Regions from separate parts of the Homo sapiens genome. Here regions 1, 3, 4, 5, 6 and 7 are each reported to be linked to region 2. Evidence: microRNA targets listed by miRTarBase, many of them from high-throughput screens and not tested one by one. Region 2 holds a microRNA gene; each other region holds the end of a gene's coding sequence.
Evidence for each region. Region 2 holds the annotated microRNA hsa-miR-5685 (ACAGCCCAGCAGUUAUCACGGG, at 1,056-1,077, shown strand). A microRNA usually pairs through its seed, bases 2 to 8, with sites in the 3' UTR of a target mRNA and lowers its output. Matches are read on the target gene's strand: a 7mer-m8 pairs with bases 2 to 8, a 7mer-A1 pairs with bases 2 to 7 and ends in A, and an 8mer does both.

Region 1 (4,075 bases), not on the chromosome of region 2:
CCCTTGTGCCCTGGAAGTTGGGTTGTCAGGGTGAACAGGCAGATCCTGATAAATGGAGGGGGACACAAGAGGCCGGGGAGCTCTCTTCCCGTGAATCCAGCGCCGGGTTGGGCCATGTCTCCTCCTGACTGGTGCCCCCTTGTCCTCAGGGACAGCCCCCAATTCGCCAGTGAGCCTGCCCGAGTCGCCAGTGACCCCAGGTCTGGGCCAGTGGAGCGATGAGTGCACCATTTGCTATGAACACGCGGTGGACACGGTCATCTACACATGTGGCCACATGTGCCTCTGCTACGCCTGTGGCCTGCGCCTCAAGAAGGCTCTGCACGCCTGCTGCCCCATCTGCCGCCGCCCCATCAAGGACATCATCAAGACCTACCGCAGCTCCTAGCCCGTTGCGGTGGCCCATCCCGCATACCCATCTTCTCGGGCTTCAGCCCAGTCCCAGCTGAGGAACAAGCCAGTGGGGCCCCTTCTCTTCCTCATTTTGGAAACTTTTCCTCCTCTATTAAACATGGGAAACTGAAGCCCTTGAAGGTTTGGGGAGAGGGGGGTATCAGGCAGGGAGGGGGCAGAGGCAAATCACCGGGCAGAGGGAGGGGAGGAGAGGAGGCCGCACTCTCCCTGTCTCTCCCGTCTCTGCACCCAGCTCCTCTCTGCATGCTGAGGGCTAAATTGGGATCTCAGCCTGCCCTAATCTTTCCCCATCTGAGGCAGGTTTCTAGGAGGTGTCTGTAGTCCATGTGGCACCTTTGTGAGAATTAGAAAACATGTACCTTCCTCTGGGCAGCTGCAGCCCTGAGCCAGGACATGTGGCCTGGCTAGTGCAGCATGGAGTGGATTTTAGGCTCATTTGCCCTCTCAGCCAACTGCCCTTGAGCAGTGTACAGCCTGCTCAACAACCGCCCTGGGCAGGCCGCTCCTGAGCTGCTGTCTCCCTCTCTGACCTATGCCTACCTTCTCTTTCTTCGTTCCCTGCCCACTGGGCATGGCAGCTGGGGGTGAGAGGCTGGTGGTTGCCTCCCGTCCTGGGCAGGCTGCAGCCTCATGCCATGTCTCTCTCCCACTACCTGATGGGCACATGGACAGGCTGCAGAGGGCTCCAGGTTCTGGGCCCCTGGCTGAGAAGGGGAGGATCCTGTCCTGGCTGTAGCCTTCCTGCCCCAATCATCTCGCTGGATGCCATTGCCCAGGGGTAGCCCTTCGGTATGGGCTGGGGAGAAGGGTTGGTCTTCTGCCAGGGTCCCTAAGAACAGGTTTGCAGCTACCCTCTCTGACCTTTTCCCCATATCTTGTGCTGTCCAGGGCCTAGGCTGATAGTCAGAGCCTGTGGCACACCTGGGATGGGCCAGGGCCCTGGGTGGGGAGGTGTGGGTTCCCTGGGCCAAGACCAGCCTTTTTCCTCAGTTTAATTAATTTATTTATTTGGTTTGTGGTTTTGGGTTTTTTTTGTTTGTTTGTTTGTAGGTGAGTTCCCATCCTCTGGGCCCCTAGAAATGCTGCCTTTGTGTGTGGGGTACCTGGGAAAGGGTGTGGCTGAGGCAGTCATAATGCAGTATCTTCCCCTGACTCCAGCCACAAAGCTCATACCCAGCCCTACCAATCATGAACTGGAACTCCATAAGGAGGGGCCAAATTGGGAGGCCTTTTGGCAAACAGTGTCTATTTTACAGAGAGGCAAACCAAGCCTCCTTAGTGCCCTGGGGCTGATGGTCACCCAGAGCCATAGAGCACCCTTCCTCCTGGGCCAGAGCTGGGTTATCATGGTTGGCTTAGGTACCTCAGGTGGCCCAGGAGGTCCCCCCTCCATAAGGACGTCAAACTTCCAGGAGGGCCAGTGTTCCTAGTGTGGGCCAGGAACAGGACAGGGAGACCTTGTGATGGCGGGGCAGGGAGCCTGTTCGTAGGGAAGATGAGGAGGCAAGGGCTGCCTCTCACACCTCCAGGTTCTCTAAGTTCTGGGGAGGGAGCGCCCCACCTGCTGAGGTCGGTCCTCTCAGCCCTGCCTGCCCTGGCCTGGGCTCTCCCAGCCTCCCAGCCCTCTGCCCCCTCAGATGGCTTTTTGTTTTTGTTTTTTTTTGCATCCATCAGAGACTGCACCTCTGTGTGGCAGGCAGGGCATGGGTTTTAGTCCTGGCCACTGACCAGCTGTGTGGCCCTGGCCGAGTCGTAGCCCCCTGGAGCCCAGCTTCCATTTCTATAAAATGGTTGTTTCGGGAGAGAGGGGCAGGCTTTCTGTGTGACTCGGGAGTTCTTCCGTGAGGGCTGCCAGGGGGTGGTGTGCCAGGACCTCAGGCTGGGCCTTTGTGCTGGCCTTGCAGTGGGTGTGTGGGGAAGTCACTGTCCCACTATGGGTCTCCACTACCCAGTCACTGACCCTGGGAGACCCCTTCTGTGTGGGAGGGAGCGGGGGCTGGCTAGCGGGCCCCCCAGCCAGGGATCCCAGAGGCTGAGGGTTGGGGAGAGGAAGCCATCATCTCATTACCTCTGTCAGTGCAGGGGTGGCTGCTGCTTCCCTTGTGCACTTGGGTCGCTGTGATTGTGAATAAAAGTGATTTCGTACCAGCCTGAGGGCGGTGCTGTGCGCAGAGCACTGGGGAAGGAGGGCCAGCGTGTGCGTGCACATGTGGGGGCAGGCTGGGGTGTGGAGGCCTGGTGTCCTGGATACTAGGGGAGTCATCAGGAGCTGTGGCCCTTCCCTGAGGGGTAATTGCAGGCCTCTGAGGCTTCAAGGTGGGCTGGGGCAATCAGGGAAGACTCCCTGGAGTCGGGGGCTGGAGCGTGACTTGGGTCTAGAATGCCAGGTGAGCCTTGCAAATTGGGAGAGGCTACTGCATCTGTGAGGAGCAGGGTGTGGTGGGGAAGGTGCCCTGGGATGGGGCTTCTCCTTAAGGCTGAGCAGGGCTCAAATCTGCCGCTTGTAGGGGGGTGCGCAGTGCCACCTAGGGGGCTAATGGGAGGATGACAAGTGGTCAACTCAGGTCATCAGGGGCTGTGCTCTGAGCTCCCCAGGAACAAGGCTTCCACCCCTCTCCCCAGGCTCAGACCCCCACATCTGGAGGGAGTTCAGCTGTGTTCCCACTGGTGGGTGCAGAGGCCTATACCAAATGGGTGGTGCCACTGAGGAGAAAAGGGAAGCCTCTGGATAGAGTCCTTTAGAGAAGTGTTCTAGATGCGCTAAGTGATCCGAGTGGTGGGGAAGGCTGAGGGGAGAGGGGTGGTGGGGAGGAGGCAGCCAGACTGGCCCCAAGGTCTAGGCACAGTGTTGGAATTGAGCTCATTTGGCAGCACCAGGCCTCAGAGGCACATGGGATACCTGCCTGCCCATCCTGTTCCAGGGAGGATGCTCAGGCTACCCAGCCTCTGCATGGCCTTGCACAGCCATGGCCTGTTCCTTGCATCAGGGTTACCTGGTCCTGCTTACTGGGGTCCAGCAAAAGCAGGAGAGGGTCGGGGGGCCATGCTAAGGAGCCAGCTAGGCCTGCTGGATGTGGGTCCTTGGCCCCAAGATCTGCATCTTTCAAAGCCTTGGCCACTGCCCAGAAAGCCTCCCAAAAGTGGGGAAGAGGCTGGAGGAGCTTGACCACAGCTCTCACCAAGAGTGAGAGCTGGCTCATGTCTGTAATCCCAGACTTTGGGAGGCTGAGGCAGGAGGATTGCTTGAGCCCAGGAGCTTGAGACCAGCCTTGGCAACATAGCAAGAACCTGTCTCTACAAATAATAGAAAAATCATCTGGGCATGGTGGTGCGCCTGTAGTCCCAACTACTCAGGAGGCTGAGGTGGGAGGATCGCTTGAGTAAGGGAGGTCGAGGTTGCAGTGACCTATGATCATGCTACTGCACTCCAGCCTGGGTGACAGGGTGAGACCCTGTTAAAAAAAAAAAAAAAAGCGAGAGCTTACCTACCTGCCCCCACCCTCCAGTGTCCTTTCTTTCAGAGGGCCCTGGGATCCTGAAGTCCACTTTGCAATTTGGGATAATGGGACATTGGCTGTTCAGCTGGATGGGTGTTTTTGGTGACAGGGAGAATTAAGAGGTGATTCCGTTCGGTTAAAAAGGCCCAAAACTTTATTTAGTT
Region 2 (4,075 bases):
TGCCAATTGTTAACCGGAGTTATTTTTACAGAGGGGGATGCTTTAGGTTTTATTTTATACCTTTCACATTCAAATTTTAATTTGATGTGTATATATTGCCTTTTTTATTCTTTTAAAAATATCAACAGGGATTGCCTGGGCAGTGAGGTTATGGGCCATTTTGTATTTTATACAATTTATTTTTAAAAACTCAACACTTATAATAATAAAGTTTCTGAAAAAGAGACAGTACCTTCATATCTGATTCTCCTGCGGTGCGTGTGCCCTGACAGAAGAAGTTGTATTTGCCTTCCCATACTCCTGTTACTAACTAAAAAAGAAGAAAGAGCCAGTCACCAACAGCATCTGAGCCATGTAAAGTCCTCATTGAACTTTATTAGTTGCAGAATCTGTGATAATTTACCTTGGGCTGTGCTGAGCCAAGTTTGCTCTGAGAAAAAACAATTGTAGGCAAGTGTAAACAAAAGGAAAGCTTTAATGACTTGAGTCTCAATTTCCTAAGGGGTGGGCTTAAAAGTCACTCCCAGGCTGCTGCCCTCAGAGACCTTCCTTTACCACGCTGCTTCTCTGCAGAACCCTCAGCCCGTCACCCCCTTGGTCCTAGCACAAGTGCCCAGACCAAGCCAATCACAGGCTCCCTGCTCTGCCCCACAGAAGCCTCTGGCTGCTTTCCCTAAGCCAGTGCTCCTCAAACTTGAGTGTGCAGCACCAGAATTACCTGAGGGGTGAGTTAGTAAAACATGGGTCCCTGGGGGTGTTTCTGTTCCAGTAGGTCTGGGGGCCTAGAATTTGTATGTCTAACAAGGTCCAGGTGATACTGATGCTGCTGATGTGGAAACCATACTTTGAGAACCACTGCTGTAGGCTCAGGGATAATTTAGTCCAACTTTATCTTCATTATTTCCTGTTGTTGTATGTACAATCCTCCGGATCCATGAATTAGGCTTCACAAACTGAAGGCTTCACAAGTGCCCATGCCTCAGAATCACTTGCAGCACAGTAGGCACTATGCTGTCACAGAGAGGACCCCAGAACTGGGGTACAGGCTCTACATCACAGCCCAGCAGTTATCACGGGCCCCTCCCCTCAATGGGCCCGTGATAACTGCAGGGCTGTGATGTAGAGTCTGCACCCCAATTCTTGTGTTCCCTGTCCTTGAACACAAGAGTTTAGCTTGGCGAGCAACACAGATTCCCCCCCAGGGAACAAGAGGTGATTACAAGGATCTGAAGACACCTTGTGATATTTCCACCTGGTCTGACATCAGAAATAAATGGCAAAAAATGGGTGTAGCCGCTGCACTCACGCTGGGTATCCTGCCTTCTATCTGATTTTTCTTTGGTTATCTTTCTTCTTGCCATTTTCCTTCTGCTTTGTCACCTTCTACACATAAAAAAGCACTGAGAGTTAACAGGCTTTTCATGGCCAAAGAAGAGCACAAGGATTTAGCATGGGAGAAGCATCAGTTCATGATGAAGAGCCATGGAATTAGGAGGAAGGCTTGAGTGCCAGGCCCAGCACCTGGGGCAAGCCAGCTAATTCCTGTGGGCTTTTGTTGTTTTTACTATAAAATGATGAGGTTGGACTAAATTATCTCTAAAGGGTCTGTTCCAAATTTCTGTAGCTTCATGTTAACAGACTTTAAAAACAGACCACACAACAAACTATTCTATACTATCTTTGAAAGATCAGTACCCACATGGTAATTCATTAGAAGGTGTATTAACTTTTCTGTCTTCTACTACTCTCTAAAGTCATGGCCAGTCAAGCAGGATCCATGCAGGCTGATCAGAAGTCCTAAGAAGCAAGACACAAAGTCTGAATCCAAAGTGCGTTGGAGGTCGGGGGAGGAAGCTGGCATGCACTCTTGAGACCTGGGGTGGAGAGGGAAGGGCCAGCTTAGCACAGTGCTCTTTTTGCTGCCCTTCTTTCTACCCCAGGAGGGAACCAAGGAACTACCTCCTGTGGCTTGAGGGTACAGAAAGGAAACTGGTGCTTCTTGATGAAATGTTTGTGGGACAACCGCGAATAAGAAAAATAAGGACAACGCAGTAAGGTTTTCATGAAGATAAATTCGTGCAATGTAAAAGATCCTCTTTTTTAAAACAGCAGCCTCTCTTGGCAAAATTAAAAACGTACTAACATATGACTGTCTTCATCAGAGATATTTTTGGAAATGTTACCATTTTATGAATCTTAAATCTGGAACCTACCATCACTGTTTTTTCCAGCGACTATTTTGGTTTATGGTGTCCAGAGACATCCTGGGTTGGTTTTGCTTTTGTCTGTTTTAAAATAGGATGGCTGGTGTGTGTGCACTTGTGGAGGTGTGGATGACTGCATTCATGAATGTCTATCTTGGCAGGGGTGGGGAAAATCAAGGTAGCTCTCTGGAGAAGAGGAGGACAAATCCTCTCTTGTAATTCTGCAGGCGCCTCAATCCCAAAGATGAGAACGGGTTGAAGGGGTCTTGTTAACTCAGCAGAAGGGACTCTTGGACACAGGCTTCCTTTTTAAGAAGGGATCCAGGTGGGATTGCCTTGACTCTTTAAACTAGTTAACCTAACGTTCCATTTGCCCTCTCCCCACCCATAAATGGGGCAGGGGAATCCATGTATAAAACACCTGTTGTCTTTGGAGTTTAGTTAAAGAACTCAAACCTCAGTATTGGGTGGTGAACTTTTTTCACTCCTGAAGCATAAACCAGGTATACACACAAGAAGCTGCTCACTCGGTGCCACTCCACTTGACCTAGGCCCACCATTCCTCTTCCACCTGTTGAGGTTCCCTGTAGGAGCTCTGTCATGCTTCAATGCAACACTCCCTCCACTGCTACTCACACCTACCACACTTCCACTGGGGCCGCTGTGCCCCTCAAACCACTGAATTCCATATTTCCATATTTAAAACCCTCCAGTGAGTCATCATTGCCTTCAGAATGAAACCCTGAATCCTAGGTGCAGTGTCCAGGTATTTAGTCTTCCACAACGTGGTCCCAAGCTTATCTTTCACTTCTCCCCTACGTGCACACAAATTGGACCTCTTCCCATTCTCCAAACATGCCCTTCCTTAACCGCTACACAGTAGCCAAGGGGAAAGAGCATGGGTTTGGGCATTAGCCCATTAAACCCTAGCTTTTTCACGTTTTGCTAGGTGACCTTAGCTAAGGTATTCCAACATTTTAAACTTCAGTTTTCTCAGTCCTCAAATGGGATAAACATAAGGCTCCCACCATGAAGTACATAATGCCTGTCTCACCCAATGTGGTTCATAGGATTAAACATAAGTGTTGGCAGTGACCACTGTTTTATTCTTTTCAACTAGAATGCCCTCTGCACCTATGTACCCCCATCTCCAGCTCTCAAAATCCTATCTATCCTTCAAAGTTCAGTTAAAATTCTATTTTCTTCATGATTACTCCCTTGAGCACTAGAGCCTGAGGTCTATTCTCCTTCCTCTACCCTCACCTTGCAGTGACCTGTAGCTGTTTGCTCACATGCTCCCTTTGTTAATGGGCCTGTTGTGTGCTCTTCTGTAAGATTTCGAAGGGTGGTGACTGTGGCTCCTGCATCTGCATCAACATATTCCAGCACAGGGATTAGCGTACCAGAGATGTCAAACAAATATTTGCTAAACAAATGACAAAGAGTTCAAGACTGCCAATTCTTTCCCCTAAATCTAGGCCTAATGTTTCATGTGCAGCAATAAAGAGAGCTTCATAGTATTTTAAACGAGGCTTGACTTTGTGATCATATTCATCTGAACTCTGTTCACAAGATGAAAACTCTTCATCATCAATTTCATAATGGGGTCATGGAAATTCTCAAATCTCCCTGGCTTCAGAAAGGATAGAATAATTTAACAAACCAAGACCAAGGACCTGAGTTGAAGCTTATTCACCTAAGACCCTCATCAAACCTCCATAAAATGGGCTAGCAGTAGAGGGCTCTACTCCCTCCATCCCCCTCAGAGGATAGCAATGTGTCCATGGGTAGTGGACTACAGAGGTGCTCAAAGCAAAGGACTGACCCCTGTAGCCCCACTAGGAGCACATCACAGGAGACAATCCTCAAGT
Region 3 (4,000 bases), not on the chromosome of region 2:
CTGGGAAGTGCATCCTGGGAGCGGGGACCTCAGCCTCCTCTCCTCCCACAGATTACAAAAACAACATCCTGAAGGAGAGGGCGGAGCTGGCCCACAGCCCCCTGCCTGCCAAGTACATCGACCTAGACAAAGGTGAGCGGCGGGGGCGACCTCAGCCCATCTCAGAGCCCTGCCTGTCCCCATTCCACCTCACCTGGGACCAACGATGGCAGGCACCAGCCAGGCCCGGGGCCCCTGCCACCTCAGGCTCAGAAATCCCTGGGGAGTCCTGCGGGGGGGTCTGCCCTGTGTCTCCCACTGTGATGAGGGTGGAGGACAGCCGCCAACCCGTTGGCGCCCTTGGCTTCCAGGGTTCCGGAAGGAGAACTGCAAATAGGGAGGCCCTGGGCTCCTGGCTGGGCCAGCAGCTGCACCTCTCCTGTCTGTGCTCCTCGGGGCATCTCCTGATGCTCCGGGGCTCACCCCCCTTCCAGCGGCTGGTCCCGCTTTCCTGGAATTTGGCCTGGGCGTATGCAGAGGCCGCCTCCACACCCCTCTCCCAGGGGCTTGGTGGCAGCATAGCCCCCACCCCTGCGGCCTTTGCTCACGGGTGGCCCTGCCCACCCCTGGCACAACCAAAATCCCACTGATGCCCATCATGCCCTCAGACCCTTCTGGGCTCTGCCCGCTGGGGGCCTGAAGACATTCCTGGAGGACACTCCCATCAGAACCTGGCAGCCCCAAAACTGGGGTCAGCCTCAGGGCAGGAGTCCCACTCCTCCAGGGCTCTGCTCGTCGGGGGCTGGGAGATGTTCCTGGAGGAGGACACTCCCATCAGAACTTGGCAGCCTTGAAGTTGGGGTCAGCCTCGGCAGGAGTCCCACTCCTCCTGGGGTGCTGCCTGCCACCGAGAGCTCCCCCACCTGTACCACCATGTGGGACTCCAGGCACCATCTGTTCTCCCCAGGGACCTGCTGACTTGAATGCCAGCCCTTGCTCCTCTGTGTTGCTTTGGGCCACCTGGGGCTGCACCCCTTGCCCTTTCTCTGCCCCATCCCTACCCTAGCCTTGCTCTCAGCCACCTTGATAGTCACTGGGCTCCCTGTGACTTCTGACCCTGACACCCCTCCCTTGGACTCTGCCTGGGCTGGAGTCTAGGGCTGGGGCTACATTTGGCTTCTGTACTGGCTGAGGACAGGGGAGGGAGTGAAGTTGGTTTGGGGTGGCCTGTGTTGCCACTCTCAGCACCCCACATTTGCATCTGCTGGTGGACCTGCCACCATCACAATAAAGTCCCCATCTGATTTTTAGACTTGTCCCAGGTATGCTTCTGAAACTCCGTCTCCTGGGGCTGGGCAAGGCATGAGTCTGGGCCTGGGAGTCCTCGTCTCCACCTGGAACCCCTGACATCATCCCATTCCTTGGGCTGAAAGGTCTGGGTCTGGGTCCTCTGGGAGTCGGTGTCCTGGGAAGGGGACCTTTGAGCTAGTTCTGTGTGGCTTCTGGTCGTGGAGGAGTTCAGATTCCCTTGAGGGCTGACCTGGACGTGAGGAGGGGGGACGTGGTGGTGGCTGTGAGGCCAGAGGGAAGGCCGTGGGAGCACAGCTCTTGGAGAGGCAGAGGGACGAGGAGCGGGAGTAGTGGGATGCGGGTCAGACACTTGCAAAGGGGGCGGGAGCAAAGAGGCTCCAGCAGAGACAGCCCGGGACAGCAGGGTGGTTCCAAGAGTCTTGGCCAGGCCAGCACGGATCTGGCCCTAGAATCCTTTCCCGCTCAGGCATCAGCTGGTTGGGTGCAGGATCTCAGCACAAGTTCAGGCGGTGGGAGGAGTGGCGGGAGCAGGAAGGCCCGTGGCCCGGGGTCCTGGCAGCACAGACCAGCGACTAACTGCTGCTTCTTGAAGCTGGCGTCACCACCCAACCCCATCCTCCAGTCCTCCCAGGACAGTGGGGGTGGGAAAGGGTGACAGTTGCCCACAAGGACCCCACACAAGCATGGATGGGGAGGGAGGGAGGCTGGTCTGGGGAGGTGTGGCTTGAAGATGCACCCCCCTCCCAGCCCGGTTACCTCTGGCCTCACCAGTGGCCACACCTGTCAGGGCCCCAGCTGGACCACATCCGCGTCAGCAACGGGACTGGCCTCAGGCCTCTGGCTTCCAGCCTCTCTTGAGACCTAGCCTGGGGTCAGGCCCTCAGGGCAGGGACAGGCTTCCTCCCTCCCTGGGGCCTCAACAGATAGCCCCTCTTAGGTCTTCCTGCCTGGCTTCTGACCTCTGGGGAAGAGAAGGGCTGCGGGAAGGTGGAGGGGGCTGGCGGCTAAGCTGTCCGGGCTTGGCTGAGCAAACGCCACAGTTCTCCCTCTCAGAGCCCGGGTGCAGGGTCAGGATCCCAGGCCCAAGCTGACCGTCAAGCACTGGTGCCTGCACTGATCGGTTTCTTTCCGAGCCGGTGCAGCCCCCAGCACGGTCAGGGCCCGATAGATGCCAGTTCCATCTCGCCGGCTTCCTGGGGACGGGAACCAAGGGACCCCACCGCACTCTCTTCCCCATCGCTCCAGCCCCGTCCAGGCCCCCTCCTCACTCCCCCCGTCGCTCCTGCCCCGTCCAGGCCCCCTCCTCACTCCCCCCGTCGCTCCTGCCCCGTCCAGGCCCCCTCCTCACTCCCCCCGTCGCTCCTGCCCCGTCCAGGCCCCCTCCTCACTCCCCCCGTCGCTCCTGCCCGGTCCAGGCCCCCTCCTCACTCCCCCCGTCGCTCCTGCCCCGTCCAGGCCCCCTCCTCACTCCCCCCGTCGCTCCTGCCCCGTCCAGGCCCCCTCCTCACTCCCCCCGTCGCTCCAGCCCCGTCCAGGCCCCCTCCTCACTCCCCCCGTCGCTCCTGCCCCGTCCAGGCCCCCTCCTCACTCCCCCCGTCGCTCCTGCCCCGTCCAGGCCCCCTCCTCACTCCCCCCGTCGCTCCTGCCCGGTCCAGGCCCCCTCCTCACTCCCCCCGTCGCTCCTGCCCGGTCCAGGCCCCCTCCTCACTCCCCCCGTCGCTCCTGCCCCGTCCAGGCCCCCTCCTCACTCCCCCCGTCGCTCCTGCCCCGTCCAGGCCCCCTCCTCACTCCCCCCGTCGCTCCTGCCCCGTCCAGGCCCCCTCCTCACTCCCCCCGTCGCTCCTGCCCCGTCCAGGCCCCCTCCTCACTCCCCCCGTCGCTCCTGCCCGGTCCAGGCCCCCTCCTCACTCCCCCCGTCGCTCCTGCCCCGTCCAGGCCCCCTCCTCACTCCCCCCGTCGCTCCTGCCCCGTCCAGGCCCCCTCCTCACTCCCCCCGTCGCTCCTGCCCCGTCCAGGCCCCCTCCTCACTCCCCCCGTCGCTCCTGCCCCGTCCAGGCCCCCTCCTCACTCCCCCCGTCGCTCCTGCCCCGTCCAGGCCCCCTCCTCACTCCCCCCGTCGCTCCTGCCCCGTCCAGGCCCCCTCCTCACTCCCCCCGTCGCTCCTGCCCCGTCCAGGCCCCCTCCTCACTCCCCCCGTCGCTCCTGCCCCGTCCAGGCCCCCTCCTCACTCCCCCCGTCGCTCCTGCCCGGTCCAGGCCCCCTCCTCACTCCCCCCGTCGCTCCTGCCCGGTCCAGGCCCCCTCCTCACTCCCCCCGTCGCTCCAGCCCCGTCCAGGCCCCCTCCTCACTCCCCCCGTCGCTCCTGCCCCGTCCAGGCCCCCTCCTCACTCCCCCCGTCGCTCCTGCCCCGTCCAGGCCCCCTCCTCACTCCCCCCGTCGCTCCTGCCCCGTCCAGGCCCCCTCCTCACTCCCCCCGTCGCTCCTGCCCCGTCCAGGCCCCCTCCTCACTCCCCCCGTCGCTCCTGCCCCGTCCAGGCCCCCTCCTCACTCCCCCCGTCGCTCCTGCCCCGTCCAGGCCCCCTCCTCACTCCCCCCGTCGCTCCTGCCCCGTCCAGGCCCCCTCCTCACTCCCCCCGTCGCTCCTGCCCCGTCCAGGCCCCCTCCTCACTCCCCCCGTCGCTCCTGCCCCGTCCAGGCCCCCTCCTCACTC
Region 4 (4,068 bases), not on the chromosome of region 2:
TATATATCCTGTTGATTCTCTTTCTATGGCAAACCCTGACTTAGTAATATGACATGACTGTAATTGGCATTTTCAAAATGGTGGCAGTATGAAGGCTGAATCTTTCCTATAGGTAAGAAATTGTACCTACCATTAAACTGTGCCATAGCAAGTATAGTGACTGCTTACATTGCCCTCAGTTTGAAGGCTTTTAAGAAGTGGATAAATGGAACGCCAAGAAAAGTTGCAAACTTGCTAAGATAACAAAACAAAAAAGACATCAAAAGAAAATGTGACTTTACTCTGATAAATTCTTTTGTAAATTTCACACCATTTTATATAAAGTGAAATGATTGTTTTAGTAGTTCCTTTTGAAATGAACTGGCTTGTTAGCAGTTGCAAGGGATAGTTTTTAGGGAGCTTAACCTGAACGTTTTAGGATGTAAAGAGCTGCAAATACTCAGTCCGTAAGTGGCATGGGAGTACATTTGGAGACTTCAGCCTGTGAGCTAAGAATATTTTTTACATTTTAAAATGGAGAAAAAAAAAACTTTCATGACATGAAAGTTATATGCAATCTGGATTTCTATGTTGACAAAGTTTTACTGGAAAACAGCCATGCTCATTCATTTACATATTGTTTATGGCTGCTTTCACATTACAAAGGCAGAGTTGAGTAGTTATTACAGAAATATTATGGTCCACAAAGCCTAAATTATTTTCTATCTTTATAGAAAGTTTGCCAACTCCTTTTCTAAGGAGCTGTGCTTTAGACCTTGCTGGAGTTTAACTCCTAGGATCTCCTGTGATAACCGTTTATGATCAGTGAAATTCCAAGTACCCGCGACTTAACATGTCCCAAAATAATCCACGTTGGTGGGAGGGTGACACACAGTTCATGAATGCAAAGAGAAGTCCAATCATATAAACTTAAAAATCAGTTTATCTTAAAATTTTTTTGAATTAGAAGAAATTGATTTCACATGAAAATATAACATTCTGAAGGTAAGTATTTTAAACATTACAACTGTTGGCTGAAATATTTACAAAGTTATAATAAGCTTATAACTGGATGAAAGCATCTATAAAAATAAATAGGCACCCTAGATGTAAAACTTTTACATGAAATAAAATGATTAGTATATATGTATCAATCTGTATCTGGAGTGTTGAATCAACAAAAATAAATGGGCATTTTCTAGTTTGTGTAGTAGTACATGAGTCAGGAGGTTTCAACTGGACAGTACTTAAAAGAGGCAAAACTGGACATTTCTATTTGATATCTACAACTCAACTGAGTTGAAAAGACAAATGTCTGAGACTGCTGTTAAATACAAAAATTAGTTTAAATGTTTCAAATAATACATTTCCAACTCACATCTTAACCAAATAGAAAAAAAAAACTACACAAACTGTGAAAGCTATTAAAAAACTTGAAGCCCATTTTTCTAGTATCTTACAATGTTATAAAAGAAGAAAAACTTTGGTATTTTAAATACAGGTTTACAAACTTTACATTATTTACAAACCCTCCACACTAAAAAATTATGTTAAAAATAAGCTTTCTTAAAACAAAATTAATTTGGCATTCAAGTATTTCTAACTTACGAGAATATAAAGTAATGATCACTCACTATTATAGTTTAAAAAGGCTAGTAAAAACTATAGGCAGAAGATAAAATTTGGCCAAGACTTGGTAACTGGGTGAAGTTAGACTTTTATAAGCAATTATTTTCTGTTTAACAGTATTCACATTAAATTAGTTACAACATTTTAGAATGTTTTAACACGATTTACGCAATCAGTCAAGTGGCTACATTTACTAGTTTATTGAATATGAGGTTTATCCATTTAGCAATGTAAGGAAAACTTTAGTTCTGTTTCTCAGTTATCAGGAGTGAACATAAAACTATTCTAAACCACAATTAGTTTACCAGCATAGTACAAAATAAAATGACAACTAACGAAATAAAGCAATTAAAGTAACTTATTTTTACTCATAAGGTTACCATAATAATAAAAATTCCTTTAATTTTCAAAGCACTCTTCATGAAAAGTAGTTGGGGTAAAATTACTATTTGTTCAAAGTAGAATAAAAGGGAAGGATGCTCTAATTAAACATTTTATTAAAATTAAACTCTCTATATGAAAGGTAGAAATTTAATCTGGAAACCTAGATAGATTTTCAAATTCAGATAAAATGGGTTGACAACCTATAAGCAGGTAATATTACAGCAAAGAAAATGTAGGCAATTACAGTGACATTCCCAATAAGAGGGTGCCCTACATTAATTCCTAACACTGGTGGTTAGCAGCCCAAAGTAAACCAAACCAAAATAAAGACCTTTCACATTTCATATAAAATTAGAAAAAAAGTAACGAGATAAATAAATACACTAAAGTTTAAGTATTTTAACTTTTTAACTTACATGGCTAAAGTAGCATTTATGAATACCTATAATAGTCAAAGGCCTAATTTATCTTAACTAGATATTCTGAAGACAAAAATTCTAGGAGCAAAATTAAATTCCATCCGATCTTGAAAACTTACAAATTGTTAATCATATAAGGCTTTTTTTCCCCAAATGCTATCAAATTCATAAGTCATTTTTTTTAAAGACACTTAAAGGGATCATATGCAGTGACTATCATAGAAGTCAAAAACAAATGGGTGAAGCCCTTTTCTGGTTACCCATTAGAAAGTGCTTCTTCATAAAGCAATTCTTTGACAAAAAAGTACCAGGCTATGTATCACCTGGTACTTTTCAATTAGCATAGTTTATAATCTCCATACATGAGTACTGGTTAGTTTAATACTTCCCAGTCTACTGGCCACAAAATAGGGGGACAAATTTAATTTTTATTCAACTGTAGCATATGACAAATGAATTATTATATCTCCCTGATTTTCTATTTTTCACGGCACGCCAAGACTATTCAAAGGGAATTTCTAAAATATCTAAGATATTGATCATAAAATTATATATGTGTATACACATATACACATACATATGTATAGTGATTAACAACTTTAAAAATGCCACAGGCTTTAATTTTATGTATCACTAGGTTTGGTCAGTAGGTTCCTATTATATTTAAATGGCCTCTGAGAAGTAAAAGTTGGTCAGTTTTACCAGTTATCTATTACAATGTATGCTAGGTTTATATCTTTGTTCAGAAGGGCAGCTTGAACCAAGATTATTATGTAACACAGGTCTAGTCCTTTTTCACTCTAAGATAGTGAATTATTACAAAAGCCACTGCTCTCTGGAAAAGAGAGCTTGGGCCTCTGATGGTATTTCAATCTATATGTATCCGTCATGCAGCTATCAACTGAAAAATAGGTAGTTAATGAAACTGTCTCATTTGGACAGGTAGAAATAGAGTCTAGTTCTGGTTGGCAAAATGCATCAATGGCACCTGAGTTTGCCTGAAAATCGTTAGTTGAGGAGCTGGATGGACAGTTTGGTGTGTTGCCAAAACATTCTCTCACTTGAAATGTTTCTTTATGTCTTTCATCATTCATATGTGTACTCACTTCTAAACTTGGTTCTGAAGCTGTACTTAAACTGTGCTTCGGAAGATGAGAGGTAGCTTTAAACACCTCTGTAAGTTTGACATCAGGTGTAGATTCGCTTTTCTCTGACTGTGGCACACTGGTTATAGCATATTTCTTTGGTGGCAAAGGGGGTGGTAGATTCTGGCAAAAAAGTTTTGGCATCTGACACCCATCAGATCTGCTGGCTGACCGAATTATACATTCTGTGGATAGAGAGTTCTCAAAGTAACATTGATCCATGATATTTTGTTGCTGGATGAGAGGAGCAGTTTCTGGCTTTAACCCAACAGTTCTTAGGTGTGAAGACCATAATGAAGATGGTTCATTACTGTTCACTCTCTTCCCAGAAGCAGAGTTATCAACGTGAAAAGGCAAACCTGTTCTCTCAGAATTTTCTATATTAAGCCACTCAGAAAATTTGCATTCATTCGGTTTTTCAAGTTTCTGTTCATCTGACTGGTGGATATGTTCTCTTGCATTATGGTCCTTGGGTATTTGTAGACTGGATGAAGGAAATAACTTTCCATTGT
Region 5 (4,075 bases), not on the chromosome of region 2:
TTCACTACCTTTGGAGAACAGATGAACATTATTCACCATGAATGGATCTATACTGTGTGGTCATGAGTTGTGTATACTTCCATAACACTGTATTTTTCTTCTGTCAGTACCCTTAGGATACACTTTAAAACACCTTAAGGTCTGATGTTATGGCAACAAACTACTTTTTCAAACCTAAATAGGAACCATGTAATTTCTCAAAAGTGATTGAACAGTTTGCCCACACTTAGTTTGTTGGTCTTATGTAAAACATTGGCTCAAAATAAAGTACACACTGATTTATTTTACTGTTTGAAATGTTTCCTTTTAAACTGGTGCTCAAAGAAGACATCAGACTTCATAACCAAGAATTTTATTACAATTTCAAATCTCATTTTAAGCAATAATATAAATGTTCTAAAACATTTGCTCACCTCTTGCCAGTTACCTTTGCATTGTCTGTCTTAAAGCAAAAATATAAAATTTAAGGGTGGTAGTTTTAATATATTCTGTGGGTCCTAAGGGATGCTTTGAATTTGAAGTATATATACTTTTAATAAAATTCAGTATGACAGTTGTCTTCTGCTTAACCCATAAAACTTTATTTAAAAAATTTAACTAGATGGTACAAAACATTCATTGGTATGCACATAATTCTGTATAGTTTTGTTATTAAATGCTAAATGACAGTGATAACAATGGCTTAAGCTTTACAGTATTCTTGTAGTTCCCTAGTACCACTTAGTATTTAAATATTGTCATATTAGCTTCAGATTATCATGTAAATGACGGTAGAGGAATAAGAGAAAAGGCTTTCATTGGTTATCAGTTTTAAATTCTGAACAAAAGAGACCATACACTGCTCACTACAAGAATGCAATTTTCTAAGAAAATGTAGTTTAAAATGTTATTCTGAATATCTGCCAAAGAATTATATTGTTATTACTAGCTAGAACCAAGATGTTGAAGAAAGCAGTTTCTACATTCTGGATGTAGTAAACAAGCCTGCCTGTGTAATCCAATTATCTCTTCACTAATGAGTAGATAAGGTGCCTGTTATAGATGTTCTGGTATATAAAGAAAAAATGTAGGCCAAGTGTGGTGGCTCACGCATGTAATCCCAGCACTTTGGGAGACCAAGGTGGGTGGATCACTTGAGGTCAGGAGTTTGAGACCAGCCCAGTCAATATGGCGAAACCCCGTCTCTACCAAAAATACAAAAAGTTAGCTGGGTGTGGTGACAGATGTCTGTGGTCCCAGCTACTAAGGAGGCTGAGGCAGGAGAATTGCTTGAAAACCTGCAAGGCGGAGATTGGAGAGAGCCAAGATCGAGCCACTGCACTGTAGCCTGGGCAGCACAGTGAGACTCCATCATATATATATATATAGCACTTCATTACCAGAGGCCTCTTGGCCTGTTGAAAAATGAAACCAAATATTGAAAATTAAATCAGAGTTTAAAGCAGCTATTTTGGAAGAGCTGCCATTAGGTAGAAAGTATCAAAATGTACAAAAGAAAGTTGTATGGGAGTTGAGTGGAAGGTAGGATTTAAGAGCAGCACTGCCCAATAAAACTTCCTATAATGAAAATGTTCTATAATGTATGTTGCCCAGTACAGTAGCCACTAACCACCTGTGATTTGAACACTTGACAATGTGGCTAATGTAATTCGAAAACTGGATTTTAAACTAAATTTACTTAAATAGCCTCATGTGGCTAGTGGCTCATTGGACATTGTAGTTGTAGACGTTTGAGACTGTTGGTTTTAAGTTGGACTTAATCACTTTCCTACCCAAATTCTACCACTCCTTTAAGAACTCCTTTAGAACTCTTTTAGTTCACATAATACGCCATATTTTTTTTACTGTGCCTGTAGTTCTTCAAGGAGTGGTACAATTTGGGTAGGAAAACCAGGCAGGAATTCCAGGGTAGTGTTCAATATTGACATTAGTAATAGTCTATCAATAATAAAATAGACATCTCAATCACTATACAAAATCTCAGAAATGTAAAGCTCTTACAGAGCATGCTTGTGCTTGTGTAACAGCTGGTGTAATGCCTGCATTTTCAGTACCATGTAGCCGCACTGTTAATAGTTTTCTATCACTTTTTAGTTACTCATGTCTCATTAATGATAGTGCCATTAATTGTGATGAGTGTTTTCGATTCATGTGGTCAATAAAAAGAGACTACACAAGCTGGAACTTTGTTGCCATTAGTCAAGCTAGTGAGATAGTATATCTATCTATCTCCCCAGAAGAAAGTAAGATAATTGATGGGGTGTGGATTCAGAAGAGGGATTACTTTTCTTTGAGCCTCAGACTTCTAGACAGTATACTTCAGTCAGTAATGGACCACATATAGAACAGTGTTTCCTTAGTAGACCATATTTTTACTGTACCTTTTCTATATTTAGATACACAAATATTGTGTTACAATTGTCTGCAGTATTCAGCACAGTAACATGCTGTGTAGGTTTGGGACAAAATAGGCTCTACCATCTGGGTTTGTGTAAATACAAGCTGATTTTCACACAAGATTCCCTAACTATGCATTTCTTAGAACGTATCCCCATTGATAAGTGATACGTGACTAATTTACGTGAAATTTATACATTCTTTATCTTTCCTGTTTTTGGTTTATTGATGGTGAGGAAAATTACTCGTTTCAGCTTTTTCATTTTTTTACTCCCCAAATGATTTTCACCTTTTTCTTAAAATGTACAATAAATGCACTGAAAACTTTGATCACTGTCACTACAGTTGTACTTAAGTGTTTTTCTTCGGTTTTTGCTTGCACAGTTTTCATGTCATTGAAGGAAAAATTTATAAATGCTTGAGGAGAATGAGATACATCTTGTATAGGGGAAAGTACAAAAGGTATGGTGGCAAGAGAGAAATCCTTAAAGGGGCACTATAATATGTAAGTGTTAACCTAATTGCCAGCTTTCTCTATGCCATCCTGGACACAGCGATCATATTTTGTTTCAAATAATTTATAAACATTCATTAAAACTTGAGTCATTTGTGATAAAATGGTGTGTGTAAAAGTAATGAAACTAAAATTGGTGTGGGGTGTTAAAAGTTGTAAAATTTTCTTCATCTAAATCATAAAAAGATACACATTCTAGAGGAATTATCTGCCAAAAAAATAACAATTATCAAAGATATTTAAATGTATGGGATGTACTTAAAATCACTTATTCCCCATTTCATGTTTACTAATAAACATATAAACTAAAGTGGGTCAACTAAATAGGGAAGATACAGCAGGCAAGACAAATAGGCTGGGCTTTTATTTTTATCTGCTTGGGCTTTAAGCTTTCCTTCATTCAAGTGACAGATTCTGCCTTTGACGGGATGCTTAAAATCACTATATTAGATCTAAGATCATTTCTAAAACCTGTTTTTTTAATGAACCTAAAGACTTTTCACAGCAGATGAGTACATAAAAATGTTACTGGAATAAGGAATACCATTAAAGCTCTAATATCCAATGTCAAGTTTTATATTAAAATCTTTCCCAAGTTATCTCTGCCAGGGCATTTTGTTGATGTCTTAGTGCAAGATTACCAAAAACTTAGTCAAATTGAACAGGATATTCATTTTCTTCTCCAACTACCAAAACACAGTCTTCATTATAAGGTGATTGGGGTGCGGTTGAAAAAACTGTGGTGAAACGAGAATCAGAATGTTTTTTGTACAGGAACCAAATGATTGCTCCCAAAACTGTCAAAATTACCGTGCTAGCAATCACCAATGCTGATATTAAAATGTGGTTATCTGAAAAGGAAAAGACAAAAGAGTATTTGGGAAATTAGGGTACACAAGTTGCAAGTATATTTTGATGAGCACAACTGTAGTTTTGTGTAAACATTTCTCTGTGTTGAGAATTTCCCACACTGATGAGAAAACCAAAAATTTCGCATTTGTTACTAACAAGATTTATATTTCTTAGCCTGAAGAATAGTACTCAAATTTTCTAGGAAGTTGTGCACTTCTCCACTCTACTGAAGACCCCATAGTGGAAATCACGCAAGTATATACCATGCTCCAGTTTGTCTTCCTTCGCTTTACTTTCTGATCTAAGACTACA
Region 6 (4,075 bases), not on the chromosome of region 2:
AAGAAACACAATGGGTCTAACAGTAAACAGATGTTCTAGGGGGAGCTGGTTCTGCGGTGGGCTCACTTTGGGTAAATTCACCGAGCTACGTGCTCACGATCTGTGCGCTTTCTTTGTGTGTATTCTTTGTGCTTCATCTACAAAGTTTACCTTAAAAAAAAAAAGTGCCTTGTGTCTACCGAAGGAGATGGGAGGGCAGAAGCTACTCTTCTCTGTCGAGTAGTGAGAGAAAACTCAACGTACTGTGGGGCAAACGCCCATCACACTCCCACCTCAGCCTCTGGGACGGTCGGCGGCACAAAGAAGCCTGCACTAGCAGCTGCTGGGATCACACAGCCAGAGGAAGATGAAAGAGAAGCGATCGATAGCAGAGGAGGTATGGGACGGGAGAAAGCAACGTGAGCATCTTTAAAGACTGAGGAAACACACACACACACACACACACACGGGCGCCAGGCTAGCCACACACACACACACACACACACACGGGCACCAGGCTAGCCAGACACACACACACACAGGCGCCAGGCTAGCCAGACACACACACACACACACACACACACACACACAGGCTAACCAGACACACACAGGCTAGCCAGACACAAACACACACACACACACACAGGCTAACCAGACACACACAGGCTAGCCAGACACACACACACGGGCACCAGGCTAGCCACGGGTCCCAGGCTAGCCAGACACACACACACACACGGGCACCAGGCTAGCCATGGTTGCCAGGCTAGCCAGACACACACACACACACGGGCGCCAGGCTAGCCACACACACACACACAGGCTAGCCAGACACACACACACACACACAGGCTAACCAGACACACACAGGCTAGCCAGACACACACACACACACACACGGGCGCCAGGCTAGCCACGGGTGCCAGGCTAGCCAGACACACACACACACACACGGGCACCAGGCTAGCCAGACACACACACACACACACACACACACACACACACACACACACACACACACACACACACACACACACACACGGGCGCCAGGCTAGCCAGAAGAGCTTCCTCTGCTAAGAATGAGCCCGAGTGCTCTTGAGAAGCCATTCCCAGACCAGGCAGGTAGGGAGGTCGACCATATAAAGTAGTAAGACTAAGACTTCCCTCTCCTCCCCGTGAATGAGGGAATGGGGGCACCCCAGCCCAGTTAGGACGGGCCAGGGCCATCTCTGGCTGAGCCGCCCCTCCCTGCCACCGCTCCACAAGAGCTCTGGAGAATTTGCGTTTCCCAGCGCCTTGTTTGAAAAATAAACACCAACCTGGCGCGGTGGCTCACGCCTGTAATCCCAGCACTTTGGGAGGCCGAGGCGGGCGGATCACTTGAGGTCAGGAGCTTAAGACCAGCCTCGATGGGGGTGAAACCAAGTCTCTACTAAAAATACAGAAATTAGCCGGGCGTGGTGGTGGGCACCTGTAATCCCAGCTACTGGGGAGGCTGAGGCAGGAGAATCGCTGGAACCCGGGAGGCAGCGGTTGCAGTGACCCGAGATCGCGCCATTGCACTCCAGCCTGGGCGACAGAGCGAGACTCCCTCTCAAAATAAATAAATAATGAAAAACAAACACGAGTTCAGCCTGGGCAACATGGTGAGACCCCGTCTCAAAACAAACAAACAAACAAACTTGCTTGCCTTCCTCAAGCAGGGCCTTCCCCTCTCATTTGGGAAGAGCCTACGATTCCGTTTTTTGCCCTTTCCTGCAAACCGGGACAACTGCGAAGGGCCCACAGCCAGGCCCGGGCCGCCGACCGCCCTTGCACAGGGTCCACAGGGGCCCAGGTCGGCGCGGGCCCGGGGGCGGCCCCACTTCTGGGAGGAGAAAGCAGCGGCGCCGCGGGCGGGAGTGCGGAGCCCCCAGCCCAGGCCCGGAGCCGCAGGGGCGCTGCCCGAGGTCCCGCCGCGCGCCGCCCACCCCCCCTGCTCACCGGGTGCTTCCGGGGCCGCGCGCTCGGGCGGCGGGGTCCGGATGGGGTTGGGGACCCCGATGGGCGGGCCCGGGCAGACGACGGCGCTCGCTGCCTCCAGCCCCGCCGCGGGACCCGAGCCCCACTTCCGCCGGCTCCGCGCGTTGCCGCGCGACGGTCCGGCCCCCAAAGGCGCCCGGGCTGCCCGCCCGCCCGCCCGACCCGAGCGTTCCGCGGCGCAGCGTGCCCGCCCAGTCCCCAGGCCCGGACCTCCCGAGCCTGCCTCCGGGCCGCCAGCCCCGCGTCAGCTCGGTTTCCTCACCTGAGAAACTGACTGGACCTGGCCTTCGTGGAACCCGGACCCCGCCTGGCTCCCAGCCTCCCCAAGTGAACAGGTCCCCAGGCCCTGCGGGATTCCAGGAAGGCCCCAGCCCCAGCCCGGTCCCGCCCCCGTCACTCTGTTGTCTGCAGAGGGGCCGCCCCCAGATCCCCAAGGCCAGTGGTGCCGGGAATTTTGAGCCCTGGTAGGACCAGCCCAGAGGCTGCCGCCAGCGATCGTCAGGAGAGAACACACAGGCGTCCAGCCCCTCCCGATCCCAGGAACAAGACCCCAGCCCAGACCTCAGCGGCAACTCCGTTTATTGAGCACCTAACTACATTGCGCAGTTAGTCCCCCACCCACAGGACCCAGACATATGAGGGACCTCTCAGGGGGGATGTCCTGTGATACAGGGGAGCCCCACCTCCCCACCCCACAGGGGTAGAGCCAGACACCGTCCCCTCCCAGCTCCCTCCCCCATACAGGCCCTTCCCTGGACCCCAGACCCACGGAGTAACCCAGACGCCTCTCCTTTCACGCCTCATTTCCCCACTTGTAAAATGGGAGGAGAGGGTTAGACCCCTATTTTTTCTCAGTTTTCCAAAGCAGCAGGAGTCTCTCCTTGTAGGAAGCTCCCCCAGACCCTCCCAGCACGGCTGCACTGGGAGGACAAACAGCATGGAGCTGTTTGTCCCTGTCTGCAGAATGAAGGCCCAGACAGCTTTCATTCATGGGGACGCGGAAGAAAAGGCATCCAGGGTTCAGCCAGCCATGGGCCTCCAGACACTCCAGGGTTGCCTCCCCCTTACCTCTGCCAGGCCCAGAGAAGCTACTGGAGGCTCAGGACTCTAGGTCCCTCTGAGGTTGGGGACATTTAGGGGCCACACCCCTGCCCCAGGCCGCCCCGCCCAGCCCAGCCCAGCCACACCCTCCCTGCCTGTCTGCCCCCGATTAGGAGGCCTGGGCAGGGGCACCTGGTGGGAGAGTCTGCCTAGCTGTGTGCCGGCAGCTGGCCCAGGATCTCAAGGCTTCAGCTGCCAGCCCCAAAGTCCAGGCACAGGGCCTGAGGGGGTGTGGGGGGCATGAATGCAGGGGCCAGGGCACTGAATGGGGACAGCAGAGAGCAGCCCTGGCTGGGGAGGCTGCAGGCCTGGCAGGGGCAGCCTGGGAAGCAGACTCAGGGCTGCTCCTGAGATCCGGAGCCTCACCAGCAGGAGAACTCGAGCCAAGCCCAGGGCCCAGCCCAGGTGGTGCTGGCATCAGGCAGGCAATGCCCATAGCCTGGAGGCTCCACCCATCCTGAGGGTTCCTCCCGCGGTGATCCAAGGGCCTGGGAGCTGGCCTCAGGCACAGGAGGGCTGCTCCAACCCAGCCTCAGGTCAGGCCAGCTCCTTGAGGCCCTGGTACACCTTGATGGAGTTGTCCTTGGCATCAGCCACCAGGAGCTGGCCCTGGGGTGCACAGGCCACTCCCAAGGGCTGCCCAAGCCCCTCTGACACCAGGCAGATGGGTGGCCCAGCCCGGGGAAACAGGGTCACCTGGCGCCTCTGCTCGTCTGCCACAATAACATTGCCCTCTGAGTTGGAGCAGATGCCCGCTGGGCAGCCGAAAGTGTGCCCCGTCCAGCCCCCCAGGGAGCCCAGGGGTTGGCGGGCACTGCCAAACAGCCTCACATCCCCAAACTCCTCACTCACAGCAAGGCCCCCATCAGGCCCTGGGCCCACCCAGCAGGGGCCCTCCAGACCCAGCATGGAGGCTGGGGCCAGGGGCTCCCAAGCAGGACCCAACGAGAAGCTGTGCACAGCCCCAGGCAAG
Region 7 (4,075 bases), not on the chromosome of region 2:
CATCACAGAGAATGGGGTATCCATCCCCTCAGGCATTTACTCTTTTCAATTACATTCTTTATTTTAAAATATACAATTGTTATTATTGACTATAGTCACCCTATTGTGCTATCAAATAGTAGATCTTATTCATTTTTTTTTCTTTTGGTACCCATAAATGATCCCCAATTCCCCCAAAAAACATTTTTAAATGAACCAAAACTGAGAATTCTACTCGAAGACCTAGATCATGGCTTGCTGCCTCAGTGCTGAGCAGCTTGGCTTCAGCCACCATGAACGGTTCCTTTCCTTGCTCCAGGACACCAAACTCGTTGCCGCAGATGCTGCAAATCCTTGTGGTGTTGAAATGACCCAGTATCCTGTGCTAAGAAGGGGAACAATGCCCCACTCTGCCTGTGATCCACTATAGTTGCACCACAGCAGAATTTCTAGGGCACCAAAGTGTTACCTGCAGCCTTTTGCTCCCCAGGGGGATCATACACTGTAGGGTGGTCTGGCCAGGGAAGTGCACCTAGCTGTACCATACTTTACTGGGAACTACAAACCCCCTTCAGATATCTGTCCTTGTTCAATTCAATTTGTAATGCCTGGTTCCCTCTTCCTTTGGATGTATTCTCTCTCAGGGCCCCACAATTCTCTCTTGCAAATTGCCCTCTCTTGCAAATTGCAAATTGCCCCTCTCTTGCAAATTGCAATTCCCTCTTGCAAATTGCAAATTCTATCTTGCAAATTCTCCTGCCCTTAAATTCTGGTTCTGTTTGGCAGAGAATGTTAAAACTTCAGTTATGGACATGGTATACGCTCTTATCTCAGGAGGCTTCTCAGCATCTGAGGCAGATACTGCTGGCTACCTCAAATTTTCTTTTAACCTTAACAGAACCCAAATTTTTAGCTGGACACATTACCACTTGTATTAGTTTGTTTTCTGTTACCTATAACAGAATACCTGAAACTGGGTAACTGACAAAGGAATTTATTACAGTTATGGAGGCTGAAAAGTCCCAGGTTGAGTCCATATCTGGTGGGAGCCTTCTTGCTGGTGGGGACCTTTGTGGCACCCTGAGGTGGCAAATATTCATATCGACCCCCAGGAAACTGATTTAACAGGGAGCAGCAGTTCTCTTTTCCCCCAGTCCTTCGTCCTGCTGCTTAGACTATGGATGTGATGGCTGGATTCCAGCAGCCACACTGAAACAGAAGGATGAGCTGGAAGGATCCCCGGTCTCTCATAATTTCATGGAACTGTCACACCAGTCCTAGAACACCTACTTCCCAAAGTATTTTATATAAAATAAACTTATCTTGCATACCCACTGTCTTAGTCAATTTGTCTGCTATAACAAAATGACTTAGACTGCTTAATTTATAAACAATAGATTTATTGTTCACAGTTCTAGAGGCTGAGAAGTCCAAGATCAAGACGCCGGCAGATTTGCTGTCTGGTGAGGGGCTCCTTGCTCACAGATGGTGCCTTCTCATTGCATCCTTACATGGCAGAAGGGCAAGAGGAACGAACAAGCTTCCTCAGGCCTCTTTTATAAGAGCACTAATCCCATTCACGAGGGATCTGCCCTCATAACCTAATCACCTCCCAAAGGCCCTATCTCTTAATACCAACATGTGAATTTTAGACACAAACATTCAGACCACAGCACACATAGCCCACAGCAACCATGTAATGAGGGAAACTTAGGAGAAGCAGGGTTGTGGGGGGAAGGGGATTTCATTGTAGAAGTTGGTATTGAACTCGCCAGTTTTTTTTTTTGTTTAAGAGATAGGATCTCACTCTGTTGTCCTGGCTGGAATGCAGTAGTGTGATCACAGCTCACTGCAGCCTCAAACTCCTGGGCTCAAGTGATTATCCCACCTCAGCCTTCTGAGTAGCTGGGATTACAGGCACACACCTCCGTACCTGGCTAATTTTTAAACTTTTTTTTTAAAGATGGGGTTCTATTTTGCCCAGGCTGGTCTTGAACTCCTGACTTCAAGCAATCCTCCTGCCTCTTCCTTTCAAAGCGCTAGGATTTACAGGTGTGGGCCACTGCACTTGGTCCCAATCTTTCTAGTTTTACTGGTAATTCAGCCCCCCACCCCCAGAACCCACTATAGAGAAGTGGGGCTGACTGAGGGAAGGAATGGGCTTAGCCAGTTCTACTCTCAGGAATAGAAGGAAAGCAAGAAGCCCAGCACTAACCTGGCCTGGGAAAGTGATGGAGGCTTCAGCCCCAGCAAGACAGAGTGTGGAGTCTCACCTGTGGCACCACTGCTTTTTCTAAGCATGCTCTGAAGTCTCTAACCTTCTCAATATAACAGAGCAGGTAATGTTTTGGACACAATTTGGAAAGCATATTCCTGTGGGGAGGGGATTATTTTTGTTTTGTGTGGTTTTTGGCTAAGAAGGAAGTTATTATCAGGAGCAATTTCCAATTATATACTTCACTGCTTCTGGCCTATATCCAAGATCTCTATTTAGCCAGTCAATGATGACGGGTGTTCTGGCAGAGATCCAGGACCAGCCAGTAACAGAACTACTTGGATCAACATCTATAATATTGTTCCAAATTGCAAGCAAAGTTAATTCCCCTATTCCTCTGAGGTTAGGGGAAGAACTTGTACATTTGTGTGTGTGCTGCATTCTGTGGAGATGGACAAATCTGAGCACTGCTCTCCACCCACTGCTGAGCCTGTATGACCTATCCAGGTAGCACATAGCACAATGGCCGAGAGCAGACTCTGGAGGCAGATTGCCAGGCTCAGGCCACCCCTGACAGTTTGCCGGCTGCCCTTTTGCAAGTTCCTCTACCTTGGGTGTCCGTTTCCTCCTCCAACATGAGAGTCACAATAGTAAGTTTCTCCTAGGGATGCTGAGAAGGCTACATGAAGCAATGTACAGAAGGGACAAGTATCACTATCAGCTCCCTCCAGCAGAATCCTGGGATTTAAGCAGGACCCAGTCTTGCATCTGAATGTCCAGTCAGCAATCTCTCTCTTCCATTCTCCTCCGAGGCAAACCATCTTGGCCCTTAGGCATCTTCTGCCTTATACTGACAGGTGTGTATCCTGGATAACAACCAGGACTGCATCCCCCTAAGGGTAAGGACTAGGTCTGATACTCATCTAGTGGACACTCAAATATTTTGCCAGTTCTATTATTAAGAATTTTATTTTTGAGCATTCTATATACATTTATAAGTGTACATATGATGTATTTTATGTACATGGATTAGGAAGTTCTTCAAGGGCACCATTAAGTGCCCACTGGAAAATTTTCTACAAGAGAATAGTTTGGAAAATAACAGATCAATTTAGGAGACTAAAACTATACATTGATATAAAGAATGGATATAGGTTTTCTCAATCCAGAATAGTACCCTCACCCCCTCTGCCCTCCCCTCTCCTAGATGGTCACCATAGGGCAGTAAAGTTTAATCAGTTGAGCACGGAGCTTCAGGGCGCTGGCACCCAGACTATGATGGAGAGAAGGAAAGAGCAACAAACAAACAGGCACGTTGGTAGTTGGCTACAGCCTGGGTATAAGCCCATGGCATCTTCTTCCCCCGAGACTGGGGATGTCCCGGCAACTGAGTAAGGGATGGGCCTCCTGCTGCTGACTTCTCCATAGTGAACTCAATCTCCTTGCCTCACAAGAACATCAGAGAGGTCCTCTGTTCCTTCCAGTTTTAGATTCTGAGGGAAGACCAAAACATGCATGGACTTTGGTATACGGAGAATAAAAGAATCATAAATTCCAATCACAGTCACAAGGTAGTGACTACAAAGAAGAAAGTTTGTCCCATGATTATAAGAAAAACTGTTTCATAGCAAGTATAATTTGCATGAAAAACCTGATTCCCAATCCTTGTTATAACAAAATGACTTAGGTGAAAAAGCAAAAAGCAAGCCTTCTCTGGCTCTGATTCCTGCAACCCACCCCCTATAAAGGGCCTAAGAGCTGAGCCGTCTGCCCTGAAGATGCTAATGGAGGCAGATGGGAGGTCATGAGGAGCCACAACACATACATATAGTCAGTCGTCCCCCCTTATCCTCGAGGGGTGTTCCAAGGCCCCCGGTGGAT

Region 1: miRTarBase lists NEURL1 as a target of hsa-miR-5685. Seed matches in the 3' UTR shown: 7mer-m8 at 1,207-1,213 and 7mer-A1 at 1,701-1,707.
Region 3: miRTarBase lists MXRA8 as a target of hsa-miR-5685. Seed matches in the 3' UTR shown: 7mer-m8 at 1,123-1,129.
Region 4: the mRNA of USP53 is a reported target of hsa-miR-5685. Seed matches in the 3' UTR shown: 7mer-m8 at 2,292-2,298.
Region 5: miRTarBase lists CD302 as a target of hsa-miR-5685. Seed matches in the 3' UTR shown: 7mer-m8 at 1,155-1,161.
Region 6: the mRNA of NHLRC4 is a reported target of hsa-miR-5685. Seed matches in the 3' UTR shown: 7mer-m8 at 3,500-3,506, 7mer-m8 at 3,175-3,181 and 7mer-m8 at 3,170-3,176.
Region 7: the mRNA of NCAPH is a reported target of hsa-miR-5685. Seed matches in the 3' UTR shown: 7mer-A1 at 2,220-2,226 and 7mer-A1 at 2,080-2,086.

Annotation. Positions count from the first base shown.
Region 1 is chr10:103,589,985-103,594,059 of GRCh38, forward strand. It overlaps NEURL1 (neuralized E3 ubiquitin protein ligase 1), which reads left to right. Exons shown (of 6, transcript NM_004210.5): 6 at 150-2,562. The coding sequence ends at 388. It overlaps SH3PXD2A (SH3 and PX domains 2A), which reads right to left. Exons shown (of 15, transcript NM_001394015.1): 15 at 4,043-4,075. Among named protein-coding and RNA genes, the nearest start is that of NEURL1-AS1, 75 kb to the left of the region's middle. RefSeq lists an enhancer at 2,428-2,722.
Region 2 is chr6:53,275,947-53,280,021 of GRCh38, forward strand. MIR5685 (microRNA 5685) reads left to right here and starts at 1,047; the gene lies at 1,047-1,125. It overlaps ELOVL5 (ELOVL fatty acid elongase 5), which reads right to left. Exons shown (of 8, transcript NM_021814.5): 4 at 233-310.
Region 3 is chr1:1,349,980-1,353,979 of GRCh38, reverse strand. MXRA8 (matrix remodeling associated 8) reads left to right here. Exons shown (of 10, transcript NM_032348.4): 9 at 52-132; 10 at 351-1,289. The coding sequence ends at 376. Among named protein-coding and RNA genes, the nearest start is that of DVL1, 2.6 kb to the right of the region's middle. RefSeq lists an enhancer at 1-483 and a silencer at 3,941-4,000.
Region 4 is chr4:119,292,355-119,296,422 of GRCh38, reverse strand. USP53 (ubiquitin specific peptidase 53) reads right to left here. Exons shown (of 19, transcript NM_001371395.1): 19 at 905-4,068. The coding sequence ends at 3,212. ARLN (allregulin) reads left to right here. Exons shown (of 2, transcript NM_001001701.4): 2 at 1-4. Among named protein-coding and RNA genes, the nearest start is that of ARLN, 6.3 kb to the left of the region's middle.
Region 5 is chr2:159,768,292-159,772,366 of GRCh38, forward strand. CD302 (CD302 molecule) reads right to left here. Exons shown (of 6, transcript NM_014880.5): 6 at 337-3,762. The coding sequence ends at 3,560. It overlaps MARCHF7 (membrane associated ring-CH-type finger 7), which reads left to right. Exons shown (of 12, transcript NM_001282805.2): 12 at 1-2,736. LY75-CD302 (LY75-CD302 readthrough) reads right to left here. Exons shown (of 38, transcript NM_001198760.1): 38 at 337-3,762. The coding sequence ends at 3,560. Among named protein-coding and RNA genes, the nearest start is that of CD302, 28 kb to the right of the region's middle.
Region 6 is chr16:567,984-572,058 of GRCh38, reverse strand. NHLRC4 (NHL repeat containing 4) reads right to left here. Exons shown (of 2, transcript NM_001301159.2): 2 at 2,564-4,075. The coding sequence starts at 4,011. The coding sequence ends at 3,640. PIGQ (phosphatidylinositol glycan anchor biosynthesis class Q) reads right to left here and starts at 2,091. Exons shown (of 11, transcript NM_004204.5): 1 at 1,963-2,091. RefSeq lists an enhancer at 250-1,144 and silencers at 1,775-1,994, 2,065-2,224.
Region 7 is chr2:96,372,904-96,376,978 of GRCh38, reverse strand. NCAPH (non-SMC condensin I complex subunit H) reads right to left here. Exons shown (of 18, transcript NM_015341.5): 18 at 1-3,687. The coding sequence ends at 3,628. Among named protein-coding and RNA genes, the nearest start is that of NCAPH, 39 kb to the right of the region's middle.